Regions from separate parts of the Homo sapiens genome. Here region 2 is linked to region 1. The links come from fine-mapping of genetic effects on gene expression. Tissue or cell type: blood mononuclear cells. Region 1 holds a variant in brackets; the other region holds the start of a gene. All regions are shown on one strand. Distances are from middle to middle.

Region 1 (5,157 bases):
GTAGGGACATGGATGAAATTGGAAATCATCACTCTCAGTAAACTATTGCAAGAACAAAAAACCAAACATCGCATATTCTCACTTATAGGTGGGAATTGAACAATGAGAACACAGGGACACAGGAAGGGGAGCATCACACTCTGGGGACTGTTGTGGGGTGGGGGGAGCGGGGAGGGATAGCACTGGGAGATATACCTAATGCTAGATGACGAGTTAGTGGGTGCAGCACACCAGCATGGCACATGTATACATATGTAACTAACCTGCACATTGTGCACATGTACCCTAAAACTTAAAGTATAATAATAATAAATAATAATAATAAATAATTAAAAAAAAAGAAATGCTGGAGGTAATACTTCAGTTGAATAGAAGGAAGTAGACAGTAACTCAAAGCCATATAGAGCTATAAACACTTCTAGTCTATGTAAATAAATATATGGCAAAATATGAAAACATGTATTTTTGAATTTTTGGTTTGTATTCTATTTTTCTTCAGAATTTAAAACACAGAAATAAGTATAATTATTTGTTAATATGTACACAATATATAATGTCCTAATGAGTGACAAAAATAATATGAAATGGGAAAAAAACCTGGGAAAATTAGTTTTTATATGAAATGGAAGTTAAATTGATGTTGATTCAATGTAAATTGTTATAACTCTATGAAGTTGTATGTCATCCAGACAGCAACTACAAAGATAATAACTGTAGAATACACTCAAGAGGAAATGAGAAGGGAATCCAAATGTCATTTAAAAAATTACACAATCTCACAAAATAGTAGTAATGACGGATATGAAGGACAAAAGCTATAGACATGGAGAAAAACATTAAAAATGGCAAAAGTAACTCTTTTCCCGTCACTAATGACAGTCATGTGTCATGTAATGCCTGGCTATCTTCTTGAGAAGGGCTTTGTTAGGTAACTTTTTCATTGTGCGAACATCATAGTATATAGATAATTCTCTCAAACCTTGTCATGATCTTATCAGCGATCTTTATGTCATATTCTAAATCCTTTGTTTTCATTTCAACATTCTTCATAGCATCTTCATCAGAAGTGAAATCCATTTCACCAAACCACTTTCTTTGTTCATCCATAAAGAGCAACTTCTCATTTGTGAAAATTATATGAGACTGCAACCACTCAGTAATAGTCAGTTTTCAATCTAATTCTAGTTCTCTTGCTATTTTCACCAAATCTGCAATTACTTTCCCCACTGAAGTCCTGAATTCCTCAAAGTCATCCATCTATGAGGGCTGGAATCAACATCTTCCAAACTCCTGTTCAAGTGTATATTTTGCCCTCCTTTCATGAGTCACGAATGTTCTTAGTGGCATCCAGAATAGTGTATTAGCGTTCTCCAGAGGGACAGAACTAGTGGAATATATATATATATATTTAAATATATATAAAGGGGAGTTTACTAAGTATGAACTCACGTGATCACAAGGTCCCACAACAGGCCATCTGCAGGCTGAGGAGCAAAGAGAGCCAGCCCGAGTTCCAAAACTGAAGAATTTGGAGTATGATGTTCAAGGGAAGGAAGCATCTAGCACAGGAGAAAGATATAGACTGTGAGGCTAGGCCAGTCTCTCCTTTCATGTTTTTCTGCCTGCTTATATTCTAGCCATGCTGACAGCTGATTAGATTCTGCCCACCCAGATTAAGGGTGGGTCTGCCTTTTCTAGCCCACTGACTCAAATGTTAATCTCTTTTGGCCACACCCTCAGAAACACACCCAGGATCAACATTGTATTCTTCAATCCAGTGAAGTTGACACTCAGAATTAACCATCCCAAGTCTACCCTTTGTTAACTTGAACCCATACACATCTCCTGAGATCATACATAGTATTCAAATAAATACAATAATAAGGTCATAATTATGCCTAATACAACTATCCTTCCTACAACTGGAAACGCACCAATCCTCACCCCAAATACTATTACATAAAGTAAACAATACTTAAATGCTGATGTGAAGTCAATAAATCTTATGTCACATGATAAAGAAAATAAAATGAAGATTTTTTTTAGTACAAGTATATACATGCACAAATATGGTTTTAACAAAAGGAGGAAATACTCATGACAATTACCGTCCTCTTTTCTGCAGTTGGTCACATGGTCATAGCCAGTATTGATGACTACCTTCTTCTACTACCCAGTATGCATACCTATGTATACCTGATATACAAGCACCTCAGCAGGTCATGTTTTTTTCCTGGTGGAGTGACCCAAACCTTCATTTTTGAAGGATCTGGGTCACTTGTAGTCCTGCTGGATTGGGCTGTTGTAGTTTCCCATTGACCTTAATCACACAGCATGGTAATACTAAGCGACGCCCTAATGCATACTCTTCCTTACCTCTGTTGTGAAGTAGTAGACTGATTTCATCTTGATAGCCCGGGTCAATCACCCCAGCCAACACTGTACCTCCCTTCTTACCCTGTTGACTTAAAGGTAGGAGGAACCCAAAGTGTCCAGATGACTGTCTTTCAGTTTAATGGAATTGTCATTGTGTCTCCC[G/A]GTGGCAGCGTTCTTCCCTCTAGAACTAAGATCTCTAGGCCAGCAGAAGGTGAAGTCACGGGAATAGGAAGCAAAAATTTTGTTAGTGGATCACTAGGAGTTATGCTGAGTGGTGCCACTTCCACTTCCACCCCTTGATTCCTGGACCGTGAATCCTGGCTATGAGAGAAAGAGTACTAATACATTGGATGCTGATTCAGGGCATACACAGCCTTCTGGAGAACTTTGCCCCATCCCTGCAAAGCACTGTCACCAACTTTCTAATCATGCTTCTTCCAAGTCCCTGACCACCCAGCCAAAATATTGGCTACAGGCCATGAATCACTATATAATCACACATCTGGTCATTTCTCCTTCCATGCAAAGTGCACAACCAGGTGCACTGCTTGAAGTTCTGCCCACTGGGAAGATTTCCCTTCATTGCTGTCCTTCAGGGATGTAGGACATCAAAGGGGCTGTAGTGCTGCAGCTGTCTGCTTTTGGGTGGCCCCTGCGTATCATGCAGAACCATCTGTGAATGACTTACAAAATACAGTAATTCTTGATCACTGGAAATGTTAAATCCTGGAAAGCGTAGCATTCGTATGTGTGATGTTAACATCATTTTCCCACACTTGTTGGCCGAAGATTCATTTGATGAATCCAATCTCTCCAAAATAGATGATTGTGATGATTCGTAGAATTCTGATGTTAGTTCTCTTTAGAAATAACTCTAAGAACAGTTTTTACATTTTTACATTGAAAATAAGTCAGATTTTCTTCAGCCTCAAAAAGTGTGTTTATGTAAAATTAAATGAGCACTGGCAGTGAGCTTTTTTTTTTTTTTAAACAGGAAAAGGGTTAAAAGGTGCTTCCTAAACATGAGTCTACAAAATAGCCACATTTAATTCACCGCTTAACCACTTTTAAATGTTAGTTTCCTGAGCCAAAATGAGGATTCAGGAGCAAACAATGAGGTAGCGGACTTGAGCTGCCCTCAGATAACAAGACCTATTTGTACATTTGGCTCCAGGGTGGTCTTCAACTATAGGAGATACTGGTTCATGGAGATATGGGAAGAAACATATCCACCCTCAATCGAGGATTTCTGAAGCAAGCCAGGACCTGGGGTAGGATTGATACCCTCCAGATTGTCTCCAATTTGGAAAACTTTGTCACAAATGGTATGTCTGTGATTATCAGGTATTAAGATCACCCACTCAGGACATGCTGGTTCTAGGTGTGTAGAGAAATTAGAAACTGTCTTAGTCCATTGTGTTGCTATAAAGGAATACCTGAAGCTGAGAATTTATAAAGAAGAGGTTTGTTGGCTCACAGTCTGGTGGCTGTACAAGAAGCATAGCATTGGCATCTCTTAGGCCTTTGGTGAGGTCTTCAGGCTGCTTCCACTCATGGCAGAAAGGAAAGGAGAACCAGCATGTTCCGAGTTCACAGAGTGAGAGAGGAAAGCAAGAGAGGAAAGTAAGGTGCCAGGCTCTTTTTAACAAGCAGCTATGAAAAAAGTAATAAAGCCAGAATTCACTTGTTACTGCAGGGAGAGCACCAAGCCATTCATGAGAGATCTGCCCCCATGACCATAATGACTTCACTAGGCCTCACCTCCTACATCGAAAATTCAGCATATGGTTAGGAGGGTCAAATATGCCAACCATAGCATTCTGCCCCTGATCCATAACCTCATGTTCTTCTTACACGCAAAATGTAGCCATTTCATCCCAATAGTTCCCAAAAGTTGTGACTTGGTCTAGCACCAACTTAAAATTCCAAAGTATAAAAATTCATATCAGACTCAAGGCAACTTCCTGCCAGTTATGAGCCTATGAAGTCAAAAATAAGTTATTTACTTCCAAAGTACAACCATGTTATCCATTGTGGGTAAACATTCCTTTTTCAAAAGGGAAGTTAACCAAAAAAAGGCAGGGGTAGGGACAGGGGAAACAGGACTCATGGAAATCAGAATTCCAGCAAAGCAGACATTAAACTTAAAGTTTCAAGGTAATTTCTGTTGACTTTATGTCTTGTACAACCTATGTGTCTAGATTCTTCTTGGCCTAAGTAGCATTCCTTCCTTCTGGCTGTGGGGCAGGGCCTTCTGTGAAATGGGAGTCTTATGACCTAGAGTCAAACAAGATAGGTCAGATAATTATTGTTATGGCCATAATTTACACAGAAAGGTGGAGGGAAAGTTAGAGTAGTATCTTTAGTTTTTATGGCTGGCTTTGGGAAAAATGGATTCTGGTTCCTATGACCTACCTTGGGGAAGAAAGATTCTAGTTTCTGTAACTAGTTTAGAGGAAAAGAGGATTGACATATAAGAGGGCGAGAGAAGCTCATAGAAAAACTTTTGCTTCTGAAGCCTTTATTTGGGGCATTGTTTGCTGAGTCCTGGCATTAATAGAGTTGTATGTTGGTTCTCTTATTAATCTGCCAATCATCAATTGATTTTTAGTGAAACATCAGAGAGCAAAGGGGAAGTTTTCCCTTGGCCCCTATAGCTGCCATTTGACTGGAGGGAGATATTTTGTTTTCTTTCTATTACTGGACAGTAAACATGCCTTCCATTCCCTTGAAGAAAAATACTATCTCTATATGCCAACACTGTTCACTCTATAAATTTCT
Region 2 (5,157 bases), 69 kb after region 1:
CCCTTTGAATAATCAAACTTAACTTCCGAAACCAATAAAAACCTCTTAGAAAAACTGGCCTCATACCTTGTCTATGCAGTTCCCAAACAGGGTTCCTAACCTATAATAAATAAAGAATGTCACTTTCTAACAGGCTCAAGAACCCTATATTCTTGGGACCTCAAAAAGAGAAAAATTGACCCAACTCATAAATATTTGAGAGTACAAACCCATGACTAGACTCAACTTTAAACTGAGGTATTATTATCTGAGGTTACTTATGGAATAGAATTCCATCAAAACCAATTTAAAAACCCTATATAAAATAATTATTGTAAGGCCAGGTGTGGTGGCTTATGCCTGTAATCCTAGCACTTTGGGAGGCCGAGGCAGGCAGATTGCCTGAGCTCAGGAGTTCGAGACCAGCCTGGGCAACATAGTGAAACCCTGTCTCTACGAAAATACAAAAAATAAGCTGGGTGTGGCAGCATGCACCTGTAGTCCCAGCTACTCAAGAGGCTGAGGTAGGAGAACTGCTTGAACCCAGGAGGCGGAGGTTGTAGTGAGCCGAGATCATGCCATTGCACTCCAGCCTGGGCAGGAGAGCAGACTCTGTCTCAAAAAAAAAAAAAATTATTCTTACTATTCTTTATACAGATAATCAGACCAAATATGAAACTAAAATTTATTTTACAAACAACTCAGTACTATCCTATCATGACTTGTTTTTGACAAAAATAAGAACTAGAGAGAAAAATAGTGTGTCAAACTTGCCATACATTTGTTATTAAATTCTAGTCTCACTAATTATTTTTAAATGTTTACCTACATTTTAGACTAACCCTACTTATTCTTATGAACTAACCAACAATCTCTGACTACAACAAAAAATAAAAACAGTAAAAGATAAATAATATAAAATTTAGAACAATATTCTAGTTCTGAACAATTATCCTACAAATCCTACCAGGTCATAGGAATATATAGAATACCCATAATCCAGAGGTTGCTTTATTTGAGAAAAGAAGACCAAAAAAACTAAGCAAAACCAAGCTCCATACACCGAAATCGTAACAGACATAACTATAACTACCAATTATCAGGACGTATCAACAACCTCAGAATTTTTAAACTATCCTTATCCCCCCTTATTTCATTTTAATACATGTACTCTAATAGCCCAAATTATTTCTTCTCACATAAAAACTATCAAACTCTAAATGGTAATACTAATAACACCACACATAAACATATCTTTCTTCCAAAGATCATTAAACCAACCCCAGGAAGAACTCTAACTACTGTTCCCCACATGACACCACCATCCGACAAAAAAATAGCCAGAAAAGTCAACACCCAATCTCCCTGACAATTAGGGACTCCACTCCTGAGGGTAAAAATGAGAGAAAAAACTTAAACAGTTAGAGTGAGTTCTTGGTAAAACTCCTTTAAACAGAGAAACAGCTTGAAAAAAATCAGACTACACACACAGATAAGGAAACTTACACAAACCTCCAGCTCACTCAGATAAAAAAACAAGGCCCAACATCAAAATGCCTTTGTCCTTTATGCCTAAGACATGGCAACAACTGCACTCATATGAGAACAAGAACCAACAGAGAAACACATTTGTCTTTTGTGTAACCAACAGACTTCTAGGAAAGTCTCTTTTTCTTTTGTGGGCATGTATATGGTGGGCTCCAGTGGGCTCTGGTGGGCACTTTCCTTTCCTTTTGTGGACATGTGGACCGTGAGATGAGCCTTTATGAATTATCATTCAGCATCTGACTGCTCCTGGGCCAAGGTCCCAGGCCAAGCTATCACTTCAACTCCTGATTGGTCCCAGACCAAGGTCCCAGGACAAGCTGAGTTACACTTTCTCCAAGACCAGTCAACAAATTCTTTTCTTTCCCAGTCCATCAAAACCCTAGACCTGACCTCATAGTTAACAATCCATCCAGGCCCCCTCTCTACTCGAGAAAATCTTCCTTCTTTCACTTATTAAACTTTCACTCCAACCTTACCCTTTGTGTCCACAGTCCTTAATTTTCTCAGTCATAAGACAAAAAACTTCAGATAATCCCTCAAAATGAAAGACTACTATATTTTTAATACATTGATGAGACTGTAACAGAATCGCAGTGGCTTCTTATATAGCAAAAAGTTTGGATGGTTGAAACTCTCTGGCAAATACTTCCAGCCCCAATAACCTCACAGCAAAGCTGCCACTAAGTATTCATTTTGGCTTTTGATTCCTCCTGGGTCCTTGGCCCTTCACATTTCTAACCAAGAGTAGAGTGGCTCTGACCAGAGCAAAAGATGAGAACAGTCTGAGCTTGCATTTTTAAAACGTAACAAATTTTAATGAGTACTTACCTAGGCCAGTTGTTAAGGAATTAAATAAGATAATGCATGTAAAACACCTAAAATACATGGAAAGCATTTGATATATTAGGTAACATTGATACTTTTAATAGAAATAAAGATAATATACCCACAAAATTATCAATCTCAGAATCCCCACAATCAATAACTTGCCATGCCACTTAAAGCAAAAAAGATCTCTGTGACCTTGAGAGGAGCAAGTTAGAGACAGTTAAATGAAATCCCAGATGAGCCCTTCCAAGCATCCACTGTCTACCCAAGTGCAGGGCTCTTGCCTGATGACTGCCCTGCAAGTACAGCTGACCTAAGAAACTTCAGCCTCCTGGGGTCCACTTACATGATCAGGAGCATAAGTGCCAAATCCCAGCACTGGCATGAAGGGTCCATCATTCAGCCTCACTGAATGGCTTTGCTTCAGATCCGTCATCATCCCCAGCTAACCTGTCTTTCCTCCTTTTCCTCACTGACAGCCCAGTAGGAGACAAGGCTCCTGCGTTCTTTATTTGCACCAAATGCAGGATGGGCGGGATGGAGATGACAGCTGCCAATGATTTCAAAATGAAACTGGAATCAGTCCAGTGCCTTTTCTCTGATTCTTATGTCTCTGTGGGAGTATTTTACAGAAAACTCACTCAGAAATGCTGTGAATGCCAGAGGACTTTGATTTTCTCCTCCGTGTTGTTCACACTTGATTCCTTAGTTGAAAAATGAACCACACCAATTTGTCCTTGATAAGTACACTAGACTTCCTTTACAAGAGGCAAAGTTATTATTAGGGTGGTCATTTCAAAACACTAATTCTACTACAGAACTGAAGTTAACTTTCTCACTTATATTTGATTGTTAATCCCTTTAAAACAGCTTATTAGAATTCCTTGAATAACGCTTGAGGCCTAGTGCCAGCCATGCATGTAATGAAATTTCTTAAGAACACCCACCCCTATTCCCAGTATATTTCCCTCCTGTGTCAAGCCACACTCCATTTTCTCTGACTTGTTTCCTTGAATGTTTTGCAGAAAAAACTTGTCTGAGATCATGGATACATTTCTATGCTCTTGCCTTTGTTCCAGCCATTGTCTCTTTTTAGAACAGCCTGCTTAACTCCCTCCTGGTCTCCAGCGGGTTTCTTATCTTTTACTTATCCTAAAAGCACCTCCTACAGTCTAACATCCTTTATGACTCCTTCTTTTTATTGTTGTTTTTTGTTTGTTTGTTTTGAACAAAGATAGGAGATAGCAAAGCAGCCTGGGTCTTAACAGAACAGCTTGGAATTCCAGGGCCTAAATTGCTTTTGCAAACATAAACACACACACAGCAACCATGAGAAAAATGAAAATTAAAAATGGCTTCCAATTCAGATGCCAAGAGGCTCAGCCTAAATGGCCTTCTGCATAATTCACTTTGGACACTTTCATCCTCTGTAGGTGAGGACAACAGGTCTGGACCAAGGTTAATACCTTAAATGGTTCGAAATAACTGACTTTGGGCAGGGTGCAGTGCCTCATGCCTGTAATCCCAGCACTTTGGGAGGCTGAGGTGGGCGGATCATGAGGTCAGGAGGTCGAGACCATCCTGGCTAACACGGTGAAACCCTGTCTCCACTAAAAATACAAAAAATTAGCCGGGCGTGGTGGTGGGCACCTGTAATCGCAGCTACTCAAGAGGCTGAGGCAGGAGAATGGCATGAACCCGGGAGGCGGAGCTTGCAGTGAGCCAAGATTGCACCACTGCACTCCAGCCTGGGTGACAGAGCAAGACTCCTTCTCAAAAAAATAAAATAAAATAACATAACATAACAGACTTTGAAATAATCAGCAGGGTAACCAGTTATTGCTAAAAACACCTCTTCATCTTTTTTTTTATTTTTTTCAAATTTTAAGTAATAGATTTAATTATCACATTATGAAATACTATAAAAAGAGAAGATGACTTCTTCTATAACCTCCCTGGGTGAGGTTGACCAGCCTTCTCTGTGTGCCTCTTATTCTCTTAGCTTCTATGAAGCAGGTCAAAAAAAATCACATCATTGAAATTACACTCTCCACTAATAAGGAGCTTCTGCTAGATAAGATGCTTAAGTGGTATTTTCTTTGGTGTTTTTATTATGCGGTGCTTTCTCCAACATGTATTTGTGCCATTGGTATCTTAGAGGCAATCCTGAAACATGACGTTGTCATTTATCTTATTTTGAACCCATAGCTCTGGCTGCTCAAGGTCCGAATTCTGCCTGATTCTGATTCCCTGTAGTTTATAATTATCACAACATTGTATCAGTTATAAATCTGGCAAGTATACTATTTATATTACACTGGTAAAACTGTAGAACCCTACAGAGATGGGGTTAAGTTCTGTGTCAAGTCACAAAAAAAGCATGTCTATTAATGGTAATAGCCTGAAGCTCATCATTCACTAGATTAAAAATTTGTCTAACATGTTTGCAATATTAACCTGTATTTTGCACTAAATGGTTTACCCAAGTAAGAGACATTTCTCTGTCACTTCCCTAATTTAGCAGTCTAGGAAATTTGTTAGTGAAAGAGAGTGTGCCAATTTTATTCTTAGTAAATCCAAAGCAGGGCTTCATGCTCCCTTAAACTTGCCTTAAGCATTATCCTAAAACATTTACAGATTTGACGTCATGCTTTGTAGCAAGCACTTTTCAGAATCCATCTTCCCTAACTGGAAAGGTGTTCGTCCATGGTTTCCTGGCACTATTTTTACTTCCTCAGGTTTTCAAAAGCTACCAAGGATATGAGTTGCTCTCAGGGAGCTCATGGTTTATTGGATAAGAGG

What was found. PIP is the estimated chance that this variant, and not a neighbour inherited with it, causes the effect.
Region 2: it holds the start of AKR1C8, and the variant in region 1 is fine-mapped to the expression of AKR1C8 in blood mononuclear cells (TOPMed, PIP 0.96).

Annotation. Positions count from the first base shown.
Region 1 is chr10:5,113,781-5,118,937 of GRCh38, forward strand. It overlaps a transcript of AKR1C8 not described here. Among named protein-coding and RNA genes, the nearest start is that of AKR1C3, 22 kb to the left of the region's middle. The variant G/A (reference allele first, on the strand shown) is at 2,539.
Region 2 is chr10:5,182,311-5,187,467 of GRCh38, forward strand. It overlaps AKR1C8 (aldo-keto reductase family 1 member C8), which reads right to left and starts at 2,840. Exons shown (of 9, transcript NM_001395972.1): 1 at 2,702-2,840. The coding sequence starts at 2,794.